Homo sapiens: one gene and its partners. The protein of the gene in region 1 interacts with the protein of each later gene in a pairwise test. Each region holds a gene or a part of one and is shown on either strand. Other genes may lie near its edges. The genes, in order: BRWD1, NRF1, TOR1AIP1 and CHAT.

Evidence for each region.
Region 2: the proteins of BRWD1 (region 1) and NRF1 interact in binary tests that used the Homo sapiens proteins (3 or more experiments, as listed by UniProt).
Region 3: the proteins of BRWD1 (region 1) and TOR1AIP1 interact in binary tests that used the Homo sapiens proteins (3 or more experiments, as listed by UniProt).
Region 4: the proteins of BRWD1 (region 1) and CHAT interact in binary tests that used the Homo sapiens proteins (3 or more experiments, as listed by UniProt).

The regions. Positions count from the first base shown.
Region 1 is NC_000021.9:39,310,616-39,318,074, forward strand, and holds the start of BRWD1 (bromodomain and WD repeat-containing protein 1), read right to left. Parts: upstream 3,018-7,459; 5' UTR 2,877-3,017; coding exon 2,828-2,876; intron 2,685-2,827; coding exon 2,626-2,684; intron 2,487-2,625; coding exon 2,457-2,486; intron 2,286-2,456; coding exon 2,226-2,285; intron 1-2,225. UniProt on the Homo sapiens protein: May be a transcriptional activator. May be involved in chromatin remodeling. Plays a role in the regulation of cell morphology and cytoskeletal organization. Required in the control of cell shape.
Region 2 is NC_000007.14:129,656,717-129,663,741, reverse strand, and holds part of NRF1 (nuclear respiratory factor 1), read right to left. Parts: intron 6,400-7,025; exon of another isoform or gene 6,397-6,399; 5' UTR 6,391-6,396; coding exon 6,168-6,390; intron 1-6,167. UniProt on the Homo sapiens protein: Transcription factor that activates the expression of the EIF2S1 (EIF2-alpha) gene. Links the transcriptional modulation of key metabolic genes to cellular growth and development.
Region 3 is NC_000001.11:179,885,282-179,892,306, forward strand, and holds part of TOR1AIP1 (torsin-1A-interacting protein 1), read left to right. Parts: intron 1-4,028; coding exon of another isoform or gene 4,029-4,031; coding exon 4,032-4,088; intron 4,089-7,025. UniProt on the Homo sapiens protein: Required for nuclear membrane integrity. Induces TOR1A and TOR1B ATPase activity and is required for their location on the nuclear membrane. Binds to A- and B-type lamins. Possible role in membrane attachment and assembly of the nuclear lamina.
Region 4 is NC_000010.11:49,624,028-49,631,052, forward strand, and holds part of CHAT (choline O-acetyltransferase), read left to right. Parts: intron 1-1,445; coding exon 1,446-1,626; intron 1,627-3,580; coding exon 3,581-3,758; intron 3,759-7,025. UniProt on the Homo sapiens protein: Catalyzes the reversible synthesis of acetylcholine (ACh) from acetyl CoA and choline at cholinergic synapses.

The DNA of each region.
Region 1 (7,459 bases):
TATTATTATTCAAATTTGATGATATACAGCGGTGCATTACATTATTCTCATTTGTGTACATCTGAAATACTTCTTTTTTGTTGTTGCGTTTCGAGACAGGGTCTCGCTCACCTAGGCTGGAGCACAGTGGCTTGATCAGGGCTCACTACATCCTCAACCTCACTTTAGGCAGGTCTAGAACTCCTGGCCTCAAGCGTCCTGCCAAAGTGCTGGGATTACAGGTGTTAGCACCGCAGCTGGCCTGGAATACTTCTTAATAAGGTATTTTTAAAAGACTTTGAAAGTTTAGAAACGATACATATACCATTAACAAAAGAATAATTCTCTACACATGAGGCTCATCATCACTCAGTCCTGGGGGACTGGAGGGCAGAGAGGAAGGTAAAAAAAGAAAGGACACCCACCAGACAGACCAAATCAGGGAGGCAATGATAGATGCCATATGTCATAGCCAAATCACAGCCATATTATCACAGAATTTAAGTGATTTTAAACAATAGTAAGTAGGGTTTTAAGCAATTCTACCAACAAAAGCCAAAAAATTTATATAAATTTTTTTTTTAAAAAAAAGAAACTAGGCCTTGCTCCATCTCCCAGGCTGGAATGCAGTGGCAGGAGGATAGTTCAATGCAGCCTCAAACTCCCAGAGTCAAGTGATCCTTCCGCCTCAGCCTCCGAAATAGCTGGGACTACAGGCACGCACCACCACAGCCGCCTAATTTTCTGTTACTTATTCTTTGTGGAGACAAGAGTTGGTCTGAACTCCTGGCCTCAAGTGATCCTCCCACCTCGGCCTCCTAATGTGCTGAGATTGCAGCCATGAGCCACTGCACCCAGCCCCTATAAATGTATTTTAAAAGTAACTTTTCCAGTAGTTACAGCACTACATTTGTTTCAAGTTATTTTCTCTCAGGTAGCACGACAACAGCGTCATAACCAGTAATGCTTTTCCGCTTCACCGATAAGGCTATATTATCCGTGAAGAAAACTAAAAGAGGGCATCCTTTAAATGTTTCCTCAACGTTTACAAAAATAAACTATCTCAAAATGTCAAACTCAACACATTGCCATCAGAATTTTTAGAACTCATTCCCTTGAAAACATCCACTGTTAAAGTGTTTACTTCAAAATCTAAGAAAGCAAATATTAAAATTATTTATTACTTGCACCAGGCTTCAAGTGTTAACTGTTCATGGAAATAACACATCCTCTGGTCTCTTCTGTTGTCTAATTCAAAACCAGTAATCTTCTACCACTTTTTTTTCTTCTTTTCACTTGCCACCATACTCTACCACTCAAGTGTTACAGGTCTTCCAACTGTGGTAAAAGATCACTCAGAAGCTCTTTTCTTTCTCAATTGTTTTCCTTATACAAGATGCTGAATATGGCCTGGCAATTAATGAATTCCTTTATCCTAATAACGAAACGGCAAAAATATATTCCTGAAAAATGTCTCCAGTAAAAACAAACGAATCCCTGCAACTGCTGTAACTATAGATAAAAGCAAGTTATATAGAAACATTAACCAAGTTCACAAAAGAAATGAGACTGTAATGCAAGATTAACCGAGCTCAAAAGAAAAGTGCCTATTTAAAGCACTTTATTGTGTTATCTACAAGATCAGTGTGAAACTCATCAATCAACTACTGCGTTCAACAAATATTGTACAGTAGAAAGGAGCACAAGCACTACAGTGGCATATTCATACAGCTGCAAGATTTTTATGACGCTGCTGACAAAACAAAAAATAAAAAGCTCAACACAAGAACATTTCTCCACCTTCAGAGACCAATGATTCTATTCCTAGGGAACAAGTGGGGGGACAGACCCGGGCGGGGCAAGAGCAGCGAGGCCAATCAGAGCGCGAGTTACAAGCGCGGTGGAGCGGGGAAGCGAATGAAACCGCCCAGTTGAATGGCTGGCTGCGCACGCCACACCCCCGCAGAGGCGGCCGCACCTGGAGCCCCACCCCTGCCGCAGGACCTCCGCGAGTCGCCCCCACCGCTCCGCCCCGCGCCGCCCCCAATGACTGTTTCCTGCCAAAACAAACCTGGCCGCCTCAAAAACAAAACAAAATCTTCAGCCGGGAACGCAGCTATCCCCGGGCCGCCCCCCAGTGCGGGTCACACTTTGCACCCCACGGGCCGGGGTCCCCGCGAGGGGAAGGGGCGGGGGCGGGGGGCGGTGCACGGAAAACCCGGGGAGCAAACGTGCCCAATGCTCACCAACTCCTCGTAGCTCCTGTTGTGCTCGTTGCCCTCCCAGTCCAATCTCTTCGGCAACAACTGGAAAGACACGAAACGCACACGAGTGACCACCCCTCCGGCGCGGGGGGGGCGGGGGGCGGGGGGCCGGGGGCGGGCGGCGGGCGGCGGGCGGGGGGCGCGGGCGAGCATCCCTCAGGGCAAGGTCGGCAGGAGGAACCCGAGGGAGCGCGGGGACGGGCGCGCACAGACCTGGTACTGCTCCAGCTCCTGCACCAGCACCTGCGGCCGAGAGACGCGCGGTCAGGGGTGGGGTCGGGCCCGGGGCGCTCCCGTTTCACCCCCGCCCACCACCCGCGACCCCCGGCGGCGGGGACACTGGGGACGCCAAGTCCGCAGCCGCCCGCGGGCCCGCACTCACCTGGGCCGCTCTCCGACACGGGCCCGCCGATAGGTACCGGGCGATAAGGAAGTACAGCTCTGCGGGAAGACAAGGAGTCAGGTCAAGCCCCGGCGGGGAGGGGAGGGGGACGGGGCCAGGGGAGCCGGGGGAGCCCGGGGAGCCGGGGAAGCCGAAGCAGCCGGGAGCGCCAGGGCGGGGGTGGCACGGCCTCGCGTCTTACCCGACTCGATGAGAGGCACCGGGCGTCGGGCGGACGACGGCTCCGCCATGGCCGGGCGCGGGGCGGGAGGCGGGAGCGAGCGAGCGAGCGGAGCGTGTAGGCCGCGCCGAGGCCTGACCGGGCTGGCGTCCCCTCTTCTCAGGCGCGCGCCGCCGCCGCCGCCGCCGCCGCCATACCGTGCGCGCCGCCTGGACCGACGCCTCCGCGGGGGAGGAAGTAGTTCCTCCGCGGGAGACGAAAAGTAGTCCCTCCGCGGGGGGCGGGGGTTTGCGCCAAGAGAGGACCGGAGCTCGTGTCCCGCCCGGGGAGGCGAACCTCGCTCAGCTCTCTGCCTCCGGGGACTCGATGAGGAGAAAGTGACGCGGAGGCAAAGACCTGGGCGCCGCAGCAGCGAGTGGGGGAGGGGAGGGCGCGTGGTCCGAATCCCTGCGCGCAATGAGGCGGCTGCCCGGGCTTTGTGAGGCGGCAGCGCGACGCCGGGTGGCCCAGCAGCGGGCGGGTGCCGGGGGCGGAAGCGCGGCCACAAGAGGGGGCGATTCACCGCCGCCCCCCGTGGGACCTGGGTCCTCTACGCGGGACCGCAGGGGCCCCGAGTCGCGGGTTGGGCAAGGTCGCCCGCTCCGGGTCGCTCGGAAGGGTCATTTCACGGACCGGTCGTCTGGGGCCAGTGCGTCTTGCCCCGCACGGAAGACCCCTCGCTTCGAGGACAGGAAAGCTTTTAAAGTGAGGATTGGCTCGCCGCGCCTCCCGCAGAGGGGAACGCCGCCCGGACCCGCGCTCCTGGGGCGGGGGCCTCGTATGCTGGCGTTGCCGGAGCGTCTGCGGCGCTGAAGGCTGCCGAGACCCAGCCACATCCCCCACAAGCCAGCAGCCCGGCAGAAAATTACATAAAATGCAGCGCTTCGCCGAGGGGGTGCGAGTCGGGGGAGCAGCGCGCAGCTGCGGCTGACGGCTCGGCTGGATCCATCCAAGCATGGACAGGAAAACGGGACTGTGGGGAGAGGGTGGTGCAGACGGGCCGCAGACCCTCCTTAGGAAGAGAAGCCGGAAACTAGGGAGTCATGTGCAGTTAGAATCCTCTTGGAAGACTAGTAGGATGTGAGGTTGGAGAGGTGGACGACGACCAGAAAATTCCCTTGTCTTGCCAGGCTTCTGACCTAACTATGAGTTTCCTCCGCGCATCCAGCCTGCCCTGCTCTGGCCCCTAAAGTACAGCAGTAACACTCAGTGGTGTCCCTGCCTTCCTGGAATGCGCGTTAACAATTCTGATTCTTACTCATGGCAATAACCTACACACCACATAGACGTTAAATGTGGTTCGGGTCAGACTCTAGGGCAGGACTCACTGCCTGCACCTTGTCTTGGCTCCACCAGCTTGACCTTGAGCAAGTCACAACCTGTGGGTCTCAGTGTTCCTTACTAGTAAACCGTAGGTAATTCCTCACTAGTAAACAGATAATATTTGTGCCTGTCTCAAAGTTGTGAGGATTTAATGAATTTGTGTTCCTGGTATACAGTAAGCACCGTGTACAAGTTGGCTTTTATTTACACCAAATAGCAAAAGCTTTTATTTATTTTGAGACAGGGTCTTGCTCTCAGGCTGGAGTGCAGTGGCGCGATCTCACCTCACTGCAACCTCTGCCTCCCGGGTTCCAGCGATTCTTGTGCCTCAGCCTCCCGAGTAGCTGGAATTGCAGGCAAGCGCCACCACGTCCGGCTAATTTTTATATTTTTATATTTTTAGTAGGGACGGGTTTCACCATGTTGGCCAGGCTGGTCTCGAACTCCTGGCCTCAGGTGATCCACCCGCCTTGGCCTCCCGAAGTGCTGGGGATTACATGCATGAGCCACTGCGCCTGGCCAAAAGCTTTTATATATATTTATAAATGGACATAGATATCTGTGAGGCTGTCGGGTATGGTGGCTCACGCCTGTAGTCCCAAGCACTTTGGGAGGCCGAGGCAGGCGGATCACGAGGTCAGGAAATCAAGACCATCCTGGCCAACATAGTGAAACCCCCGTCTCTACTAAAAATAAAAAAATTAGCCAGGTGTGGCAGTGCGCGCCTCTAGTCCCAGCTACTTGAGAGGCTGAGGCAGGAGAATCGCTTGAACCCCGGAGGCGGAGGCTGCAGTGAACCGAGATCGCGCCACTGCACTCCAGCCTGGGCGACAAGGCGAGACTCCGTCTCCAAAAAAAAAAAGCTATTTGTGAGGTAACAATCTAAATATGTTTGAGCTAGTGCAACAGTAAGTTAACTCCTTACATCTGTTAATTCAGCAAGCACTAACAAGTGATGGAGATTAAAAAAAAAAAAGGAATGAGCCACAGCTTTGCCATCAAAGACTTCAGCGTCTCTTAGGGGAAACAGATGTAAGCAAATAATGACACGATTTAGGGCAGAGATATATCAGAAGATCAGCTTGCCTGTGCGTGGGGGAAATGTTAGGGAAGTTTGGGTTATCCAGGCTACAATGTGTGGAAAGGGATTTCGCACATACAAACAACAGAGGGCCAAGACATGAATATGATTTCTAGTTTAAGGAACCAGAAGTTTAGTATGACTACTTGGGGTGACTTTGGAGAGGATGGGACCATGATGTCAGAAGTTGAAATTGGGAGCAATTGAAAGATTCTAAGCCAGGAAGGAATCATTTTCTATTTTAGGATGGATTTGAGAAAGTTAAGACCAAGAGGCACTTAACATACCCCTGAAATAGAAAAGAAATGATGCATGAGGGCGTTGGTCATAAGGATAGAGAAGAGACAAGATCAGAAGTATGTAGGACAGTAAATCTGCAAGATGAAGTTGGGGTGAAATAAAAACCACAAAAATCTCGTTTGGGGCTTTCCAAGGTTGTGCCAACAAATAAGGTAGGGCATACAGGCTGGTAGCTAGATTGTTAAGATGAGTAACTGCTTGCAACAACTTGATTATTTGAAGTTACAGTGCATAGATGACTGTGGGACAGTGATCTGATGCTGCAAGATTACCAGTGTTACCAAATGACAAAGACATCAAGAGGGGAGAATTTAAACTTTCAATGATTGACCAAGGAGTTGTGCATTTCATTTTGTAACAAGGGCGTAAGATTAAAAACCCCCTAAAGATATTACAAGAATTTATATCCCAAGCTCTGGTCATTGTCCAAAATTATCGTTCTGATACTGGCACCATGATAACCATTACAAGAGATCAGAAATGATGACACGAGCCCAGACACAGTGGCTCACACCTGTAATCCCAGCGCTTTGGGAGGCCAAGGCCAGAGGACTGCTTGAGCCCAGGAGTTCGAGACCAGCCTGAGTAACATAGTAAGACCCCATCTCTACAAGAAATAAAAAATAGCCAGGGGTGGTAGGTGTGTACCTGTAGCCCCAGCTACTTAAGAGGCTGAGGCATGAGAATGGCTAGAGCCGGGGGGGATTGACGCTGCAGTGACCCATGATCACAGCACTGCTCTCCAGCCTAGGCAGCAGAGCAAGACCCTGTCTCAAAAAAAAGACACGATGACATGAGTTTTCCTTTACAAGAGCCTTGGGAGTCCTTTTACAACTTACTATCACATTCATGACAAATATTCTTTCTAAATTTTGAATAGGAACAAAGATTTCTAACAAGAGAGAGAATATCTTCCCGATTCGACTCCCATATGTCAAGAGACTCAGATGTGACTCATATTTGCCTGCCAGGAGGAGGAAAAAGAAATACACTGTCCAGGAGCAACTCCTTAGTGGGTACCCACCAGAAGTGGTCTCCAAACAAGGCAAGAATCTGTGTATTCCTCACACAATTCAATCCCAGCCATTCCATATGTACACACTGAGGTTTGCTTTTGGGTAAATGGAAATAACTTTAGAGTTTCACCACAAGAAAGCTACATGGTAAGCAAGTGTTGGAAAATCTTAACAGTGGGTGACATTAAGCTATAGGGTTGCATTTTCAAGGGAACCAACATCTTATGCCGTGGCAAGCAACTCCTGACTGGATAAACAGCTCTTAGATGTCATTGATAGGCTCAAGCTGAGGCGCAGAGGAAGTATGGCCCAAGGGCATATAGCTGGTAAGTGGTGGCTGGACTGCAATCCCAAGTAGACAGTATTATCTTAGACTGAAACACAAACACTGCAAAGTCCATTCTCCCTTGGCCACGTTTCACAAAAGAGGAAATGGGACCTGAAAATTAGGAGACTTACACAGGATTGCACAGCTAGCGCATCAGAGAGCTGACATTTGGAAGCCCACGTGATAAGTACGTGTGTAATCTCATTTACCGCAGGCAACTCTTAGATTCTGTTATTCCCATTTTAAGAATGAGGAAACTAGTCTGGGCGTAGTGGCTCTCGTCTGTGCTATCAGCACTTTGGAAGACCAAGGCAGGAGGACCGCATGAGCCCAGGAGTTCAAGGCTGGTCTTAAACATAGTGAGACCCTCTCTCTACAAAAAATTAAAAACTTAGTCCATGCATGGTGTTGGGTGACTGTAGTTTGAGCTATTTGGGGAGACTGAGGCAGGAGATCACTTGAGCCCAGGAGTTTAAGGCTGTCACAAGCTATGGTGGTACCACTGTGCTCCAGCCTGGGCAACAGAGCGAGACCCTGTCTCAAAAAAGAATGAGGAACTAAGGCTA
Region 2 (7,025 bases), on another chromosome or scaffold:
GCCTCTGCCCGCCCGCCACCCCGTCTAGGAAGTGAGCAGCGTCTCTGCCTGGCCGCCCATCGTCTGGGATGTGAGGAGCCCCTCTGCCCGCCCGCCCCGTCTGGGAAGTGAGGAGCGCCTCTGCCCAGCCGCCACCCCGTCTAGGAAGTGAGGAGCGTCTCTGCCTGGCCGCCCATCGTCTGGGATGTGAGCAGCCCTCTGCCCGGCCACCCCGTCTGGGAGGTGGGGAGCGCCTCTGCCCGGCCGCCCCGTCTGGGAGGTGAGGAGCACCTCTGCTCGGCCGCCCATTGTCTGGGATGTGAGGAGCGCCTCTGCCCGGCCGCCACCCCGTCTGGGAGGTGAGGAGCGCCTCTGTCCGGCCACCACCCCGTCTGGGAAGTGAGGTGCGCCTCTGCCCGGCCACCCCGTCTGGGAAGTGGGGAGCGCCTCTGCTCGGCCGCCCCGTCTGGGAAGTGTACCCAACAGCTCCGAAGAGACAGCGACCATCGAGAGCGGGCCATGATGACGATGGCGGTTTTGTCGAAAAGAAAAGGGGGAAATGTGGGGAAAAGGAAGAGAGGTCAGATTTGTACTGTGTCTGTGTAGAAAGAAGTAGACATAGGAGACTCCATTTTGTTCTGTACTAAGAAAAATTCTTCTGCCTTGGGATGCTGTTAATCTTTAACTTACCCCCAACCCCATGCTCTCTGAAACATGTGCTGTGTCCACTCAGGGTTAAATGGATTAAGGGCGGTGCAAGATGTGCTTTGTTAAACAGATGCTTGAAGACAGCATGCTCGTTAAGAGTCATCACCACTCCCTAATCTCAAGTACCCAGGGACACAAACAGGGCCGAAGGCCGCAGGGACCTCTGCCTAGGAAAACCAGAGACCTTTGTTCTCGTGTTTATCTGCTGACCTTCTCTCCACTATTATCCTATGACCCTGCCACATCCCCCTCTCTGAGAAACACCCAAGAATGATCAATAAATACTAAAATAAATAAATAAATAAATAAATAAACCTTAAATTGGATTAAGATGATCCAGGATTGCTAGTGCCCTCGGGCATCTCGCAGAAGCAAACAAAAATCCTCTCTAGAGGAAGATAACATTATACTAGACCCCAAATTATTTCTAGAAATAATTTTCCAAACACAGCATCCAGTATTCATTGAAATATAATAGTACACCAAGAAAAGAGCCAACGTGAACAAGAAATGACATTAACAACATGTAACAGAAACTTGAGAGAGAATTACCAGGTAAATTATAAAATTATTTGTTTAAAAGAAATTTTTTTCCACTATTGGAAACCGTTCAGTGCAAATCTCGGAGGAAACACACACACACACACACACACACACACACACACACACACTAGAAATTCTAAAACTGGAGGAAAAAAAACACTTGGTTAGTAGTTTTGGTTAAACTATTAACAATTACCAAAATTAATAAGTCAATGAACAGATTTAGAAGCACCTTAATAAATAAAGAAAAAACAAAGAAAAGAGAACATAAAAAAGGCACCTTAAACACAGCTGATATGGTTTGGCTGTGTCCCCACCCAAATCTCATCTTGAATTGTACTCTCATAACTCCCACATGTTGTGGGAGGAACCTAGTGGGAGGTAACTGAATCATGCGGGCAGGTCTTTCCGGTGCTGTTCTTGTGATAGTGAATAAGTCTCATTAGGTCTGGGGGTTTAAAAAAAGAGGAATTCCACTGCACAAGCTCTCTCACTCTTTGACTGCTGTTATCCATGTAAGACATGACTTGCTCCTCCTTGCCTTCTGCCATGGTTGTGAGGCCTCCCCAGCCACATAGATCTGTAAGTCCACCGAAACCTCTTTTCTTCCCAGTCTTGAGTATGTCCTTATCAGCAGCATGAAAATGGACTAATATAGTAAATTGGTACCAGGAGTGGGGTGCTGCTGAAAAGATACCTAAAAATGTGGAAGTGACTTTGGAACTGGGTAATAGGCTGGGGTTGGAACAGTTTGGAGGGCTCAAAAGAAGACGGGAAAATGTAGGAAAGTTTGGAACTTCCAAGAGACTTGATGAATGGCTTTGCCCAAAATGCTGATAGTGATATGGACAATAAAGTCCAGGTTGATGTGGTCTCAGGTGGAAATAAGAAACTTGTTGGGAACTGGAGCAAAGGTGACTCTTGTTATGCTTCGGCAAAGAGACTGGTGGCATTTTGCCCCTGCCCTAGAGATTTGTGGAACTTTGAACTTGAGAGAGATGATTTAGGGTATCTGGCAGAAGAAATTTCTAAGCAGCAAAGCATTCAAGAGGTGACTTGGGTGCTGTTAAAGGCATTGTTTTATAAGGGAAGGAAAACATGAAAGTTTGGAAAATTTGCAGCCTGATAATGCAACAGAAAAGAAAATCCCATTTTCTGAGGAAAACTTCAAGCTGGCTGCAGAAATTTGCATAAGCAACAAGGAGACGAATGTTAATCCCCAAGACAATGGAAAAAATGTCTCCAGGGCATGTCAGAGGTCTTCACAGTAGCCCCTCCCATCATAGGCCTGGAGACCTAGGAGGTTTCAAGGGCTGGGCCCAGGGTCCCTGTGCTGGGCACAGCCTAGGGGCTTGGTGCCCTGTATCCCAGCTGCTCCAGCTGTGGCTGAAAGGGGCCAACACAGAGCTCGGGCCATGGCTTCAGGGGCTGCAAGCCCCAAGCCTTAGCAGCTTCCACAAAGGTGTTGAGCCTGCAAGTGTACAGAAGTCAAGGATTGGAGTTTGGGAACCTATGCCTGGATTTCAGAGGATGTATGAAAACTCCTGGATATCCAGGCAGAAGTTTGCTGCAGGGGCGGGACCCTCATAGAGAACCTCTGCAAGTACAGTGTGTAAGGGAAATGTGGGGTTGGGTCGGAGACCTCACACAGAGTCCCTTCGGGGGCACTGCCTAGTAGAGCTGTGAGAAGAGGGCCACTGTCCTCCAGCCCCCAGAATAGTAGATCCACCGACAGCTTGCATCTTTTGCCTGGAAAAGCCACAGACACTCAACAACAGCCCATGAAAGCAGCTGGGAGGGAGGCTGTACCCTGCAAAGCCACAGGGGGCAGAGCTGTCCAAGACCATGGGACCCCACCTCTTGTATCAGCATGACCTGGATGTGAGACATGGAATCAAAGGAGATCATTTTGGAGCTTTAAGATTTGACGGCCCTGCTGGATTTCGGACTTGCATGGGGCCTGTAGCCCTTTTATTTGGCCAATTTCTCCCACTTGGAATGCCTGTATTTACCCAATCCCTGTACCCCCACTGTATCTAGGAAGTAACTAACTTGCTTTTGATTTTACAGGCTCATAGGCAGAGGGACTTGCCTTGTCTCAGATGAGAATTTGGACTGTGGACTTTTAAGTTAATGCTGAAATGAGTTAAGACTTTGGGGGACTGTTAGAAAGGCATGATTGGTTTTGAAATGTGAGGACATGAAATTTGGGAGGGGCCAGGGGTGGAATAATATGGTTTGGCTCTATGTCCCCACTCAAATCTCATCTTGAATTGTACTCTCATAATTCCCACATGTTGTGGGAAGGACCCGGTGGGAGGTAATTGAATCATGGGGGCAGATCTTTCCCATGCTGTTCTTGTGATAGTGAATAAGTCTCACAAGATCTGATGGTTTTAAAAGGAGGAGTTTCCCTGCACAAGCTCTCTCTCTTTTTGCCTGCTGTCATCCATGTAAGATGCGACCTGCTCTTCCTTGCCTTCCACCATGATTGTGAGGCCTCCCTAGCCAGGTGGAACTGTAAGTCCATTAAAACCTCTTTCTTCCCAGTCTTGGGTATCTCTTATCAGCAGCATGAAAATGGACTAATACAACAGCTAAAGAAGAAAATCTTCTGTCTTTCACAAGCTGAAAGACAGAAGAAACTACACAGAAAGATGATACATACAGAACAGATGGTTAAGAGACATACAAGTGAGGAAGACTAACATAAGTAACTGGAGCCATGGAATGAAAAGAGATGGAATGCAGCAGAAGCAAAATCTCATGGCTAAAATTTCCGGGAGAGGGGGGCAGGCCATGTGGGAGATAATCTTTGAAAGAGTAGCGGTTAGAATGAAATAGCTGAATTCTCAATAGCAGCAATGGAATCCAGAAGACAGTGGAACAGTACCTTCAACATGAGGAAAGAATAACCACCAAGCTAGAATTCCATACTCAGTGAAAACATCCTTCAAGGTTGAAGTTTAAGTAAAAACATTCACAGACAAGCAAAAATAGAACTTGTTACTAGCAGATCCATGTTAAAGCAAATATTAAATGGTGTCTTTAGGCAGAAGTAAAACCATCTCAGGAGACCAGTTGGAGATGCAGGAAAAAAAATTAACATTATTTTTTAAATAAAAATATTGTTCGCTGGATGCGGTGGCTCACGCCTATAATCCCAGCACTCTGGGAGGCCGAGATGGGTGGATCACCCGAGGTCAGGAATTCAAGACCGGCCTGGCCAACAGGGTGAAACCCCATCTCTACTAAAAACACAAAAATTAGCTGGGCATGGTGACGCACACCTGTAATCCCAGCTACTCGGGAGGCTGAGACAGGAGAGTTGCTCCAACCCAGGAGGCAGAAGCTGCAGTGAGCCAAGATTGTGCCACTGCACTCCAGCCTGGGCGACAGAGTGAGACTCCATCTCAAAAAAAAAAAAAAAAAAAAAAAGTCCTGTGGTGTTTAAAATACAGTTGTCCCTTCAAATCCTCTTGAGATTGTTTCTAGCATCTTGATGTGTAGATGCTCAAGTCCCTGATATAAAATGGTGTAGTAGTTTCACATGACCTATTCACGTCCTTCTGTATCATTTCTAGGTTACTAATACTAATATTATAATACCTAATACAGTGTAAATGCTATACAAATAGTTGTTGTATTGGCCTTTTATTTGTATTATTTTTAATTGTTATATTGTTACTTTTAATTTTTTCCTAATACTTTTGATCAAAATTGGTTGAATGTGCAGATGTGGAGCCCACAGATAAAGAGAGCCAACTGTATACCAAAAATGAATACAAAGGACAACAATAGCATATAGGATGGGCGCATGAAATGCAAGTGTTCTAAGAAATTTGTATTATCCCTGTAGAGGTTAAAAGTTCCAAGTACATACAACGTTTTGCTTTTCCTTTTTTTTTTTTTTTTCAACTGGACACAGGCTCTCACTCTGTCACTCACGCTGTAGTGCAGTGGTGTAATCATAGCTCACTGCACCCTCAAACACCTGGGCTCAAGTGATCAGTCATCCCACCACAGCCTCCCAAGTAGCTGGGACTAGGGAGCACGTCACCACACCCAGCTAATTTTTTTTTGGTAGAGATGGGATTGCACTACATTGCCCAGGCTGGTCTCAAACTCCTGGGCTCAAGTGATCCTCCCACCTTGGCCTCCCAAAGTGCTGGGATTACAGGTGTGAGCCACTGAGCCTAGTCAACATAAGGCATTGATAAATAAAGGATGTATGTTACAATTTCTACAGGTATTGATAATAGTAAAAGCTTATAACTTTCAAACTAACAAGAAAAAAATGAAAAAATACAAAATTTTCAATCACTACAAAAGAAAACGCCAAGAAAGAGAAAAGTAAACAGAACAGGTAGGGCAAAGAGAAAGCATATAGAAAAGAAGGTAAATTTAAATCTAAATACATGTCAGTGATTCTGTTTAACGTAATTGGAATAAATGCTTCAGTTTAAAGCCAAAACATAGGCAGAATAGATGAAAAAATAAAACCAAAGCCATAACACTGATAGTAAGTGATTACAGACCTCAAGTCTCAGTATAATACAGGCTCAAGTTATAACTGCAAGGCTTAAAAAAGTTGTGATAAAGGCCAGGCATAGTAACTCACACCCGTAATGCCAATAATTTAGGAGGCCGAGGCAGAAGGATCGCTTGAGCCCAGGACTTTGAGGCCAACCTGGGTAACACAGTGACATTTCTGTCTCTACAAAATATACAAAAATTAGCCAGATGTGGTGGTACACATCAGCAGTCCCAGCTACTCCAGAGGCTGAGATGGGAGAATCACTTGAACCCGGAAGATCAAGGCTGCAGTGAATCATGATTGTGCTGCTGCACCCCAGCCTGAGCAACAGAGTGAGACGCTGTCTCCAAAAAAAAAAAAAAAAAAATTAAAGAAGAGCTTCTAATCCAAACAACACTACCTGCAGCTGCCAGATGAGCTGTCACCTCATCAGCTGCTGTGGAGTTGAGTATATCTGAGTCATCGTAAGAGGTGTCCTCGGGAGAAGAAGGCGAGTCTTCATCAGCACTCAGCATACTATGCTCGGTGTAAGTAGCCACATGGACCTGCTGCACTTGCTGGGCCACTGCATGTGCTTCTATGGTAGCCATATGTTCGGTTTGGGTCACTCCGTGTTCCTCCATGAAGTTCTACTGTCAGACAAAAAAGAAAAAGAACAGGATTCAGTGTGTAATATAACACAATGTTTAAACTAAGAGATATTTTATTCAAGAGCAGAGGAACCTTGACAAAATTCCAATTTCACTACTTACCGTGCCACACCAAGTCACAGGAAATGGGAAGCACCATGCAAATGTGACATAAAAATGACAGAGTGGTGTTCTTACGTGAAACCATTTTGATGGAAATTCGCTGTACTAATTTTATACCTCAGATCACAAAACAACAGATACCCTTAATAATAAAAAGACATTCAAATATAACAATAAAAACATACTTAAGATAGCTCAGTGACTAGCATTTGGCCTTGTGAACATAAGAACACTTAGTAAATAAGTGAAATACTTAACATTTTCTTTGTATGTCAAAGACGAGTGAGAGTCAAATAACTTTTTTCCCAAAAATTCAAATTGGTCTTTCTGCTTATAAAACTGCTTCTTGAGGGCATGGCGGCAAGTGCCTGTAGTCCCAGCACTTTGGGAGGCCCAGGCAGGTGGATCATCTGAGGTCAGGAGTTCGAGACCAGCCTGGCCAACATGGCAAAACCCTGTCTCTATTAAAAATACAAAAAAATTAGCCAGGCGTGGTGGTGGGCGCC
Region 3 (7,025 bases), on another chromosome or scaffold:
TAGCAAGGGAAAATGCTGCCAATTTTTTGGTAATTTGTAGTAATATGCCATAATTATATGATGCATCCCAATTTCAAAGATGTTAAAGTGTTTAAAAAAATTGTCAGAATCAATGTAACATGGAAGTAGGCTACATTTAATAGTTCACTTAAGTTTTAAAAGCTGATTAAAATATTTTAAAAAGCTGGAGAAGGGATCAAGTCCAGTTATTAATGCTTTGGGTTTTAGTTCCATTTAATTTTCAATTTGCTTTTTTTGATATTAGGAAAGTCTCACAATAATAAACAATCATAGCTGTTAAAACTGATAATCCTTGGTTTTTAGTACCCAGATCCTGACTTATTTACCTGTTTCTAATAAGATTATGCTTTATAATGTGAGCTATTGTATTCTAAACTTAGAATAAGTATGTCTGGTTCAAGTTGAGTTTCAAATAAAAACACCTTCATGCTAATTTTTTTTTCTTTTTTCTTTTTTGAGACAAAGTCTCGCTCTGTTGCTCAGGCTGGAGTGCAGTGGTGCCATCTCCACTCACTGCAACCTCCACCTCCCAGGTTCAAACAATTCTCCTGCCATAGCCTCCTGAGTAGCTGGGATTACAGGCGCCTGACACCACACCTGGCTAATTTTTGTATTTTTAGTAGACATAGGTTTTCACCATGTTGGCCAAGCTGGTCTCGAACTCCTGACCTCAGGTGATCCACCCGCCTTGGCCTCTCAAAGTGCTGGGATTATAGGCATCAGCCACCACGCCTGGCCTGTCCTATATTCCTTGAATAGTCTATGTTACTGTGTTAAGATTATAAACTATCTTAGAAAAATGCTTTGAATAATGATGATATAATCAGATTTTCTGGGCCATTTTGGAAAACCATAATCTTGAATTTATTTGCAGTAGATTTTATTGTATACCTGGGAAAGCAAAAATGTCTAATTTTAAATCTAGAGTAATTTATAAAAATTATGGAGTTAAGTAAATTGGTATAATGAAGACTACTGAGTGCTAGCCTCCGGACCATTATAAAACTATTAAGTAATAGAATGTCTTGAATAGTCTTTTTGGAGTTTATATTAGGCTCATATTTAAGAACTGCTAATGAGGTACACCATGGCTGCATGAGGTTGTGGCAAGAGCATTGGACCTCAGTGAAGTTACTCACTCATCTTGAGCCTTAGGCCTTTACCTGTGTTATTTGCCCTGCATAACTCACAGGGCCTCTGAAGAAATGAGATAGTACATTTGAAATCACTTTGTACCCGGTAAAACATGCAAGTGAGGTTTTTTTTTTCTCATAGCCCTTTACAAGAGATGTGAAGTTCATACAATTTTGCTTAAGTGTATCCTTTTTCTCAAGAAGCTTATGCTATAAATAGAAATTGAAAATGTTTACCAATATAAATGACAGATTAAATGGAATCTGCACATAGATTACCTGGACTGTATCAATAGCATACTGTGCCTTCAGTATTACTAGAAATAAGAGTATGTCTGTCTTTGAGAGGTTTGAGATACTCAGGGTTTTCTTCCTCTAAAAGGTGCTTTTATACTACATCTAATACTTGGCATATTCCCATCCCATGCCTCTTAATGAAAGGAGAGTTTAGGGAATTATTAAATGCTTATAAAGTCTAAGAGAAATTATTTAAATGGAGTCACTCTTTGATGGAGGACTGCTTTAAGTACAAGTTTAAGGTAAAGATAAGCCCTTCTTCCTCATAGAATGATAGACATTCAGTTTAACTTTGATATTCAAAATAGTGCTATAATTGTATATAAGGCTACCGGTGTGGTCTGACAGAAAATTATGCAAAGATGCCCTTACGAATAAAGACCTAGGCCCGGCATGGTGGCTCACGCCTGTAATCCCAGCACTTTGGGAGGCCAAGGTGGGCAGATCACGAGGTCAGGAGTTCGAGACCAGCCTGGCCAATATGGTGAAAACCCCATCTCTACTAAAAATACAAAAACTAGCCAGGCGTGGTGGTGGGCACCTGTAATCCCAGCTACTCGGGAGGCTGAGGCAGGAGAATCGCTTGAACGCGGGAGGCGGAGGTTGCAGTGAGCCGAGATCATGCCACTGCACTCCAGCCTGGGTGATGGAGCCAGAGTCCGTCTAAAAAAAAAAAATACCTAAACCAAAGGACCACCTTATAAAACAACATAGTAAAAATATCTACATCATTTGGTTATCTTGTTATTGGAAGACTTGAAAATGTTGATTAATTCAGAACAGGAATATAGTTTGAAATCTTCTCATTGTTTGAAATTCCATAATTGAGTTGTTTTCACTTAAAATAGCCGTTAGGTTGTTTAATCAATTCAGGTTATATATACCTACATAACAGTTATTCTCCTATGGCCAGATTCATTTCTTTCTGGAAATTATGACACTAATTTTATAATCCAAAAATATATTAGGACAAATTCTATTTACTTTTCCAGAAGTTAAATGGGTATTTTTGTTCTACTAGTGTGGTTTCTAGCTAAACAATCAGATAGTTGTTCTTAAATGCTTACTATTTTATCATGAACATTTGCTTCTCTAGCTGCTGTAGTTAGAGCATTCATTCTCCAGATAATTATTGAGCACCTACTTTGGGCCAGTCTCCATGCTTTGATTTGAGGGTGCAGTGGTGAACAAAAGCAGACAAGTGAGGAAGCCTCCTACCAAAGAAGGGTACTTGATATTTTGTTCTCTCATACCTCTCTCTGGTACCCTGTGTCTTTCAAGTACTTTACTTGGCTATGGGATATGTATATAGTAGCACATGCAGGAAATGCTTCTTAAATGAAAAGATGGGAACTGAAGTAGTGATTGATGTCTGTAGAGTCAGTTTGATTAAACATAGCTTAGTAAAAGCAGACAAACCAAAAACAGATTTTAGGTTTTAATTAAACCTGAAAAGGCTAGAAGTATAGAGAAGAAAAAGAGGAAGGTAGTTGTAATATGTGGAGTAACAGGAACTAAAATTTGCCTTTATTATCATGTGTGCAGGGTTTTTGTTTTTGTTTTAAAGAGACAGGGTCTCACTGTCACCCAGGCTGGCGTGCAGTGCAGTTATACTGCAGCCACAAACTCCTGGACTCAAGCTATCATCCTCCTGCCTTCGCCTCCCAAATAGCTGGGATTACAGGCACACACCACTATGCCCAGACAGGGTCTCAGTATGTTGCCTAGGCTGGCAAGATTTATTTTTTAAAGATATCGATATAAGTTCTAAATACTTGATGTGTGAAATACTGAGATAGATATTTCATAGAATTTTAGAGCTGGAATATTTAAGGGGATCATCAAAGTTCCAGAATGTGTTTTTTGCAACTCAGAGCTAAGACATAATGCTTTTTTATACAGATGAATGAAACAAAACATAATAGAATCCAAATTTTGATAAATATTTGGTTTTAGAACATGTTATGTGAGGTACTTGGAGAAAACATACTTTTATAGGTGGTTTTCTAGACTAAAATTAACATTTTAATAGGATCGGCTTCTCCGCTATCCCTATGCCATTGAACTATAGATGGTCTAAAATAAACCCTGGCCCACATTAATGTTTTTATTTAAAATTAATTTGCATTTCTTCAACACAAGGTTAAATAGAATGAGCGTATTGAATCTCAGGATGTTAACCCTAAAATTAAAATATTCCATAAATAATCCACAATGAGGGTCAGTCACAAATGGAATAGATAATTGAGTTGGTACCATAATACAGATTTTGGTTCTTAATTGAGCAATTTAGAAGAATTTTATTTAGTATTTCTTTCCTTCCTACAGCTACGGTTTGCTGAGAAAAAATGCAAATTTCTCCATCAAGACTATAAATTTTATATGGCAGGAAACTTGTCTCTAGTTCACTATCATCACTAGTTCGCAACAGTTGTCACTTAGAAAGCTTGTCTCTACTTCTCTAGCGTAAATAAAAGCTCTGTAAACCTTTGTTGAATAAATAAGGGATGATCATGTAATAAAGCTAGTATGTTTCACATTTTATATATTTTTAAATGTTTTCTCTTCCTATATTAGCAGTGAGTGAAGATCTTGTAATCAGGTTACGTCGACCCCCTCTAAGATACCCAAGATATGGTAAGAGATTGTTTGTCTGTTGGTTTACCTTTGTTATAAATACAGTTTTATTTTTAAATATGGTTGTACATGTATTCATATGATTCAGAACTTAAAAGTTACTGTAAATATACATTAAAAAATCTCCCTGTCCCCTCTGTCATTCAGCCAGCCAGTCTCTCTTCATCAAAAGCAACCAATGTTGTCAGTTTATATTTTTTGGAGATTTACAGAAATTCATGGATGAAATTATCTTGTCCTTTTTATAATACAAATTTTGGCTTTATAAACTCTCATTTCTGTCTTTTTTTTTTTTTTTAATTTGAGACAAGATCTCGCTCTGTCATCCAGGCTGGAGTGCAGTGGCACAACCAGGGCTGACTGCAGTCTCAATCTCTCTGGCTCAAGCAGTCCTCCTGCCTTAGCCTGCCAAGTAGCTGAGACTATGCATCCACCACCACGCCTGGCTGATTTTTGTATCTTTTGTAGAGATGGGGTTTTGCCATGTTACCCACATGATCTCAAACGCCTGGGTAAGTGATCCACCCACCTCAGCCTCCCAGAGTGCTGGGATTACAGGCATGAGCCACGGCACCTGGCTTACTTTTCTGCACTTTCTTGTTTATTTTTACTTAACATATATACAGAGATATTTCTATATTCATATATAAAAAGCTTCCTTTTTTAAAGAGATTGTTTCTTATATATTCCTGTGATTCTTTATGATGATTTTAAACTATGGTCAGGGACTTTATTCTTCCAGTATACTGCTAACAAAAAATTCAAGCTGGAGCTCTGTGGCACAGAACGACAAAATGTCCCTCCCTCAGTTATCTTTTTGACTAAAACGATTAAAAGTATTGCCCTGAAATTGATTTCATGACTATGAAGAAAACTAGTAAAGACACTCCAAGCAGTCTACTTTTACTTCATTTTCCTTGTTTTTTTGGCTCTTAAAGATGCTTTATCATGGGAACTAAAAAGGAAATGTATTTATCTTTATATTAGGCTTCTGTACCTTCCCATTCTCTTTATCAAAGAATGATGTTGATTTATTTCGATAGATAGTTGACTATCCTTTTAAGTATTCCAGTGGTAAAGATCTACTAAGGTTTTGTTAATGAACCTGTGGTAAAGAACCATATGATGCATTTCCTTTTCAACCCTAATCATTCTCTTGCTATGTCTCTTGCAGATTCGACATACAAAACAAATAGAAATACTAAAATGAGTGAATTATGTTCGTTTATTTCTATTCTTTTTTTTTTCCAGGCAGGGTCTCACTCTCACCCAGGCTGGAGTGCGGTGGCGTGATCTTGGCTCACTGCAGCCTCCTCCTCCTATTGTAGTCCCAGCTACTCTGGAGGCTCAACTGAGCCTCCTACTTCAGCCTCTGGAGTAGCTGGAACTACAGTCATGCATCACCATGCCTGGCTGATTCCTGTGTTTTTTATAGAGATGGGGTTTCACCATGTTGCCCAGGCTAGTCTCGAATTCCTGGGCTCTAGCAATCCACCCGCTTTGGCCTCCCAAAGTGCTGGGATTATTGGCATGCACAACTGCGCCCAACCCTATCTCTAATTCTTACAAGGTCTCTTTGAGGGTCCAGATTAATAGAATACAAGAGTATATATATCTAGTCATTGGCTTGAGAATACTAATTTATTATGTCAGTTTGTGGGGACCCAGTCCCTATGACTAGGACCTCCCATAAACAGCCTTGGTTTTTGTTGTCTATAATTATGCCTATATTATTGCTTAAATTCATATAAAAACATGTAATCAATTTAGTCCTGCTAGTCTTCATTAAATTCACACTATTAGGAAAAAGGAGATAACAACTTACCAATTAAGGTTTTTCTCTTGATTTATTTTTTGTTTTTGTTTTTCTGAGACAGAGCCTTGCTCTGTCACCCAGGCTGTAGTACCGTGGTGCGATCTCGGCTCACTGCAACGTCTGCCTCCCAGGTTCAAGCAATTCTCCTGCCTCAGCCTCCCAAGTAGCTGGGATTACAGGTGCCCACCACCACGCCCAGCTACTTGTTTTGTATTTTTAGTAGAGACAGGGTTTCACCATGTTGGCCAGGCTGGTTTCAAACTCCCTGACCTTGTGATCTACCCCACTTGGCCTCCCAAAGTGCTGGGATTACAGGCATGAGCCACCACGCCCGGCCTTTCTCCTTGATTTTTATTTTTATTTTTTATTTTTATTTATTTATTTATTTTTATTTTCTCGAGACAGGCTCTTGCTCTATCACCGAGGCTGGAGTGCAATGGCGTGATCTTGGCCCACTGCAACTTCTGCCTCCCTGGTTCAAGTGATTCTCCTGCCTCAGCCTTTCAAGCAGCTGGGATTACAGATGACCACCATGACACCCAGCTAATTTTTGTATATTTAGTAGAGATGGGGTTTCACCATGTTGGTCAGGCTGGTCTCGAACTCCTGACCTCAAGCAATCCACCTGCCTCGGCCTCCCAGAGTTTTGGGATTGTAGGCGTGAGCCACCACACCTGGCCCTTTCTTCATTTAGAAAGTGAATTCGATACGTTGTTCACGGCGAGTTCAGTGTCCTTTGCTGTAATACGTTCGTTGAACGGGTTTTAATTCATTTCAGTGTCTGCCTGGCTATAGGACATGACATACCATGATTTGTGGTTTTAAATGAATCTACATTGAATGTTGTTAGACTTAGTTTTTTTTACATTTTAATTATTTTCTAAATTTGAAGATGAGCCAAAAGGGAAACGCTTCATTTTTCTTTATAAATCATTGTACCTTCCTCTAATTCATCTTTCACTTAAGTTCAGGCCACTTCTTTAGAGACTTAAAAAAGCTTTTTAGGCTGGGTGTGGTGGCTCACGCCTATAATCCCAGCACTTTGGGAGGCTGAGGTGGGCAGATCACCTGAGGTCAGGAGTTCAAGACCAGCCTGGCTGGCATGGCAAAACCCCGTCTCT
Region 4 (7,025 bases), on another chromosome or scaffold:
GCCTCCCAAGGGCTTTCACTGCACCAAGAATAAGGCGATAGCTCCTCTCCACTGCCACTGGAGCCCCACAGGACCTGGCCTGCCCACCTCTCTGGCCCTGTCTTCACTGGGCCTCAGCCCCACTGGCTTCTCTCTGCCTTTGATCAGTGCTTCTCAAGCTGCCTCTGGGGAAGAACCAATATATTTTCTTTCATTTTGTAAAATTTGTGAAAAACAACAAAAAATTGATTACTAGAAAAACGGTATGAAATATGAGACCAAATGTTTTATTACAGGATTCAACAGACATAAAACTCCCATCACATTGCTACAAACATTTCTGGGTTCAGGCATTACACCAAGTCATGGGTCAGTCACAGCAGTTCAGTGCAATACTCATACTTTGAGTTGCAGTGCTTTGGGACACTTCACCCTTAGGGCTCAGCTCAATCAACCTGCCTCAGTGAGACTGCCCCTGGTCACCACCTCCTGTCCCTGCCAACACTCTGTCTCACTACCTGACAGTCTCCTGTTCACTGGTTTGCTGCTTGTGGTCTACTCCCTACCTACACATCCTAGGACTTACACCCCAGTAGAGCAGGAGCTGCATGTCTTATTTGCTGCCATATCCCCACATCCCAGAATGGTGCCTGGCCTATACGGAGGACGTGCTTCACAAATATTTGTTGGCTGAAAGAGTGGAAGGAAGGAAGGATGGATGGACGGATGGATGGATGGATGGATGGATGGAAAGATGGATGGATGGTGGATAGATGGGTGGATGGTGGATGGATGGGTCGATGGAAGGATGGATGGATGCTTGGTGGATGGATGGGTGGATGCAAGGATAGATGGATGGTGGATAGATGTGTGGATGGTGGATAGATGAGTGGGTGGTGGGTGGAAGGAGGGATGGATGTTTCGTGGTAGAAGTATGGTAGATGTATGGATATATGGATGGATGATGGATAGATGGATGGGTGGATGGATGGAAGAAAGGGAGGGAGAAAGGAAGGATAGGCACAAGGCATGCTGAGACCAGAGGGAAAAAGAACTTCCTGCATTGACCTCAGAAGAGGCTTCTAAAAGAGATGATAAAGGAGTAGGCTCTTGAAGGAGGGGAAGGAGTTTTCTGAATAGAACAGTTGAGTTCTGGGGTTGGGGCAAAGGCACGCCGAGAGAAGATCAGCATAAGCAAAGATGCAGAAGGCTAACTGGCAGGCTTTGCACATGCCGTGCATGAGGCAGAGGTTTGAGAAAACTCTGAGGGTCTCCACGTGTTGTGGAAATGGGGCCTCCACTACTTTAAAAAGTGGAGAATTGAGCTCTGCATCTGCCATGATGATGCAGTTCTGGGTTCTGTGCCCCATTTTGCCTGATCAAGTTACAATAAAACCCATTCTCTGTCTCCCCTCACCACCCACCATCCCCTCGTGGCTGCCTCCCTTCCCACTCCTCTCCTTCAGCCACTCCATTCCCACTGACTGTGCCAAAGGCCAGCTGTCAGGGCAGCCCCTTTGCATGAAGCAATACTATGGGCTCTTCTCCTCCTACCGGCTCCCCGGCCATACCCAGGACACGCTGGTGGCTCAGAACAGCAGCATCATGCCGGAGCCTGAGCACGTCATCGTAGCCTGCTGCAATCAGGTAAGCAACCCCTTGTCTTGGTGAGGGAGGGCACAGAGCATACAGTGGCCATGCGTTCACGTCCATTACCTTCTCCGAGGGGGCTCAGCCTCCTTCCCTGAGTCACACAGGGAGCTGGGGCACCATGTCTCCAAAGTGGGGCCCCTACTTCCAGTCAGTCCCATGTCTCTCCACCAGTTGCCTTCTAAGAATGAGAGCCGTCAGTTTGAGAATATCCTCACTGGACTCTCACTTCAGCACTGATGCACTGAGGGTCATGATCGAGACCTCCACCTGTACATCTGTTCTTTTCCATGCAGTCACCCAGGCTCTGGCCTTTCTGGAGACCACACACAGACAGACAGTGTTACAGACTGACAAATAGGACCTTTCATGTGTCAGCCTGTGGGCTCAGCACTTAACATGCATTCATCCCACTTAATCCTCACAGTGACCATGCAGAGGGGGCCTTAGGATCTCTGTGTGACAGTTGAGGACATGAGACTCAGACAAGTTAAGTGGTCTGTCCAAGAGTGGGAAGGAATCCTGGGTCTGGCCAGTGCCCTAAGGTCATGCTCTACCCCCTGCAGCTCAGGTCCTCAGACTGGGTTCCACAGAGCCAACAAGGACCCATGGGTCCTGGGGGACAGGCTGAGCATGAGGGCTCCTGACCTCTTCCCTGTGCCCACTGCACTATATATTCCATATATTGAGCTTCACATAAATATTTCCTCTGACAAACAGTTTTGTTTTTGTTTTTGCTTTGCTAAAACCCAAGTTTGGCAACCATCCCAGGGACTCCCCTGGTACTTGCTCTACAATGTGATCCTGGGCTCTCCTCACATTTTTAGTAAGTTGGGAGCTCTGTGGAGCCCTGACATCTGAGGGCAGCTGTGACCTCTGTTCCTAGATTTGAAGGCCATCTAGGAGCTCTCGCAGCCCACCTGACACCTTGGCCATAGACCAAGGACGTTTCCCCATCTTCATTCAAAAGTCAAGCCAAGTATTTCCCAGCTCCCACAGGCCACCGTATCCACCTCTTCCAGACATGCTCTGGGCCCCTGCACAAGACCAGGCCATACAGACACTGCTAGGGGGTTGGAGGGGAAGGGAAAACAAGGTACTCATGTCAATCAGCTGAAAAGTGTATCTTGACCTGGGTCTAGGAATAGACCCTTCACAAAGCCCAAGGCTCTAGCCTTCAAAGCTACAAAATGACAAAACCACAGGGCTGACATACAAAGCACATGTAGGTATACATGTGAAGGTGCACACACATGCACACATGTGTAGGTGCACATGCACGCATGGTGTGTGTTGGTTTTCCATTTTAATCTTCCTCTGCATATGATTGCTGGCTTGCTTTTTTTCCTCCACTCACCAGTGTGTTTAAGGCCCATCACTGTGGCTCTATCTGTTGCTAATTCACTCTTTTCAATGGCTGGGTAGACATGCCCTAGACATATACACCACATTTCACTTAGCCATTCCCCTTCTGGAGAACAGTGAGGCTCTTGCTACCATTTTGCTGTTGCAAACAAGGCCGAGAGGCACATTCCTCGTGTCTTCCGGTACACACGGGTACGTTTCTCTAAGCCTCAGGCTAAAATATGCATTTATAAGTGCAATTGCTTAGTCATAGGTATGCACATTTTTAGTTTTGATAGACACTGCCCTCCAACAGTAGCTGTGCCAATTTATATTCCATTCCCCACAAACATAATGGATTCCGTGAACCATGAAACACATTTTCTTTTGGCTAAGTTTAATGTTGCCTTCTTTGATTGGGGGCAGCGTGGAATCCAGCACAGTCAACAGCCTTGGCTTGGTCCCTAAACTGAGACTAGAACCACCAAACACCTTGGGAACCTTGGGCCTGAGCATCCCTGCCCCAAGCTTACCTGTGAAGGCTGAGTGAAGGCCTGGTGCCACGGGCCACCCAACAAGTGACATGTTTGACCTGTTTACCCCACAGTTCTTTGTCTTGGATGTTGTCATTAATTTCCGCCGTCTCAGTGAGGGGGATCTGTTCACTCAGTTGAGAAAGATAGTCAAAATGGCTTCCAACGAGGACGAGCGTTTGCCTCCAATTGGCCTGCTGACGTCTGACGGGAGGAGCGAGTGGGCCGAGGCCAGGACGGTCCTCGTGAAAGGTCAGCCGCAGTGCCCAGCACATCTCCATGCCCATCTCATGCTCGTGCCCATTGGCTTTCCCTCCTCTAGGGTTGGGCCAGGGCCTCATCCCCATCAGCCATAGTGTGGGAGCTCAGGGCCCACAGCATGCCCTGCGGCCAGCCACAGTGCCTTGCCACCGAAGCCACCTTTTGTGCCCTCGTGTTCCATCTGACAGTATCTGGCTTTCTTGGTGGGACTAACTAGTGCTGGAATTGGGGATGTCTGAGAATACTGGGCGGGGCGGGGGAGTTAGCTGGAGGAAGGCTGGCTGCAAGTGAGCAGGTGTGTTTTCCTGGTGGGTGGCGCTCACTGATAGTGGCTGGGGGAGTCGCTGAATGGGGGTGTGGGATGGAGCCTGCCTCTGGGAAAGTGGTTCACCACCTCTTTCACCTGATCTCTCCATCCTGGGACTCTTCATCTTCAAGCTGTCCCTTATCTTGTGGCACTGTTCTGATGAAAGTCTCCAAGCATTCCCATAAGAAAGCCAGGAATATTCTTGAAAATTTTTCATCACCCTTCTGGAAACTACTTTCAAATCCAAAGCTGGTCCTATTCCAGGAGCTGATGGAATGCTCTCCTTCCTTGCCCATGTTAGAGACACTGGATGAGAAGCAAGACTTCTGTGAGTCTTTATTTACCCCTCAGAATTTTACTGGGTCAGGCAATCTATTCAGACTCTCCACATCTGTTACTGAGGGCCCTGGGCTTGGCTCAGGGAGTATGGGAGACAAAGGAGTTGAGGCCTCTACCCAAGAGCAGCCCCATGATGGGAACAGGAAGAGGGGGCATGGGGAGGAGACTCACATCCAGGTGCATGCAGTGCTGACCCACTTCAGACAGGCGTCAAAAACGTGCTCCAGGACTTCAGAGAGGGGACGGAGCCCTTCCGAGTGGGATTGTGAAAGGCTCTGTTAGAAGAGGTGGGAATGGAACAAAGCCCCATGGCATGAGTGAGAAAGGCTGGAGGGAAGGATGGTACCCAGGCAGGCAGACCAACCCTGGGCAAAGCCCGAGGCCCAGCAGGGACACACCCACCTTACCCCCAGGGTGAGGAGGAGAATAGCTGCCCAGCAAAGGTGGCCTGAGCCGGATGTACTGGGCCTATTTTTTCTAACAGCCACTTGCATTTTCTGGTCTCTCTCTAGAAGGGTCTTCCCCCAGATCCAGCTGGCTCCTTGCCGCACGCAGAGCTCAGCCCAGGTGTCCGGCCTCAGGCCTGCCTTGGGCATCCTTCCCGCACACTCTGTCACTGTGGCCCGTTCGCTTACCTTGACTCTGTTGCTCACTCTCTGAGGACAACTTTGCATTTGTTTGATAAATGCTGATTATCTGCCTTTCCCCCCACCTCCTACCCACTGCCTATAAGGTCAGAAGGACAGGGGCCTTGTCTGTTTGGTTTAATTTCTGAGAAACACAGTCTGGGCCCAGTTACATTTATTAAATAAAAGAGTGAAGGGTGATTAAAAATGCCAGGCCCCAGACTTATTCCCCGACTTACCAATTAATTATTCTTTCATCCAATTATTGGGCACCTCCTGAATGCTGTCATAAATAGGGGGCTGCAGGAGCCAAAGAGGGGTGTGAGAGCTGACTGCCCTCCCGGACCTAACCTCGTGCTGGAGAATTAATAACTTAGCATTCCGCAGTGAGTTAATTCCCTCGGGAGACCATGGTGTAATCAAATCCCACTCTTCTCCCCTTCAGGGACAGAGACAGGCATCAAAATAATCGCCTCTGCCTCCAGCATAGTTTCCACTTTATTAGCAGGCCAGGCCCAAGACACGCCCTTCAGGGCTGGCTGGATTGCCCCAAGGTCTGAGCACTTGGGCTGCAGATCAGAATTGATTTGTTAATGGCACTTGATCTGGCTTTCTGAATGGAAGTGCTGTTTCTGAGGGAAATGCGACAGAAAGGAGGGGACACATGCGCCTCCCCTTGGGTAATCCGATTAATCCAGTTAGCGCCAACTGTGTCATCTACACAACAGGAAACTGATCCTTCACAGATCCCCCCTCCCCAGAGCAGCCCTGCCTATGGAACAGAAACAGAGAGACCATTTACAAAATGATTTCGGTTTCCCAGTGAAAGAGTATGGCAGCTTGGGACAGGGTTGAGAGTGAAGATGGAGAGACCAGTGACGTCAAGGCCATTGAAAGCGAGAACAATTCCTGGGCTTTTTATCCGAGCCGTGAGTGGATGTTAGTGCCATTTAGTAAGATGGGAAACAGGGTCGGGGAGTGGGTACAGGATGGAGAAATCATTGCCACACATGTTGGGTTAGAGGTGCTTGGGTCATCTGGGTGGAGACGTCAAGCTTAATATATATGTTTGGAGCCCAAGGGAGAGGTCAGTACAGAGCAATAAATTTGAGGGACATCAGCGCATAAATGATCCTTAAAGTCATGGACCTGGGTGAGATAATCTAGAAACAGAAGAACAGGGAGCCTGGAGGTCAGGTAGAGAAGGATGCAAAGGGGATTGAGAAAGAGTAGCCCATGAAGTAAAGGAAAGCCAGAAGAGTCACAAAGATTCAAGACAGAGGGAACGGCCAGCCACATGGAATGCTGTGGAGAGCTGGAGGAGGAACAGGACACAGGGGACCCGGCTTGGCAACCCTGAAGTTGTCACTGGGCTTACTGAGGGTCAGACTGGAGTAGCAGGAGAACAAATGCTTGCACACTGACAGAAGTGATCCAACAGCAGAAAGAAATTGTCGATGAGGCAGTCAGTGAGTTGAACCAGTGAGTATGGTCGACTTTTTCTCAGACATTTTGACACTAAAAGGAGCAGAAAAATGAGGGAGTTGCTAAAAGAGGATGAGGGTCAAGGGAGGTGTTTTTAGGAGGAGAGACAAATGTATGGAAGGAATTTAGTAAAAGAAATTGATGAAGAGATAGGAGATGAATGGAGGGGTGGAATTCTTGCAAAGGCAAAAGGAGATAGAACTCAGAAAATAAGAGGCCTTTGGTTGGTACAGGGTGAAGTGGAAAGCTTGGGCCTGAGGCAGCAGAGGTAGGAGCATGCAGAGGCTCCCAACTGGTACCTCCTGGTCTCAGATCACAACCTTGAGATAAGAGGCGGGCAGTTGGATGTTGAAGATGAAATCGACTGTGTGAAATAGCCTCCTGGAAAGTGGGAAAGAAGACTTGAAAAACTTGATAAGATTTATGGACTGTGTTGAGCTCATATATGAAGGTTCAAAGTGATACATTTTAGGAGAGGCTAATTAACATTGTTATGTGATC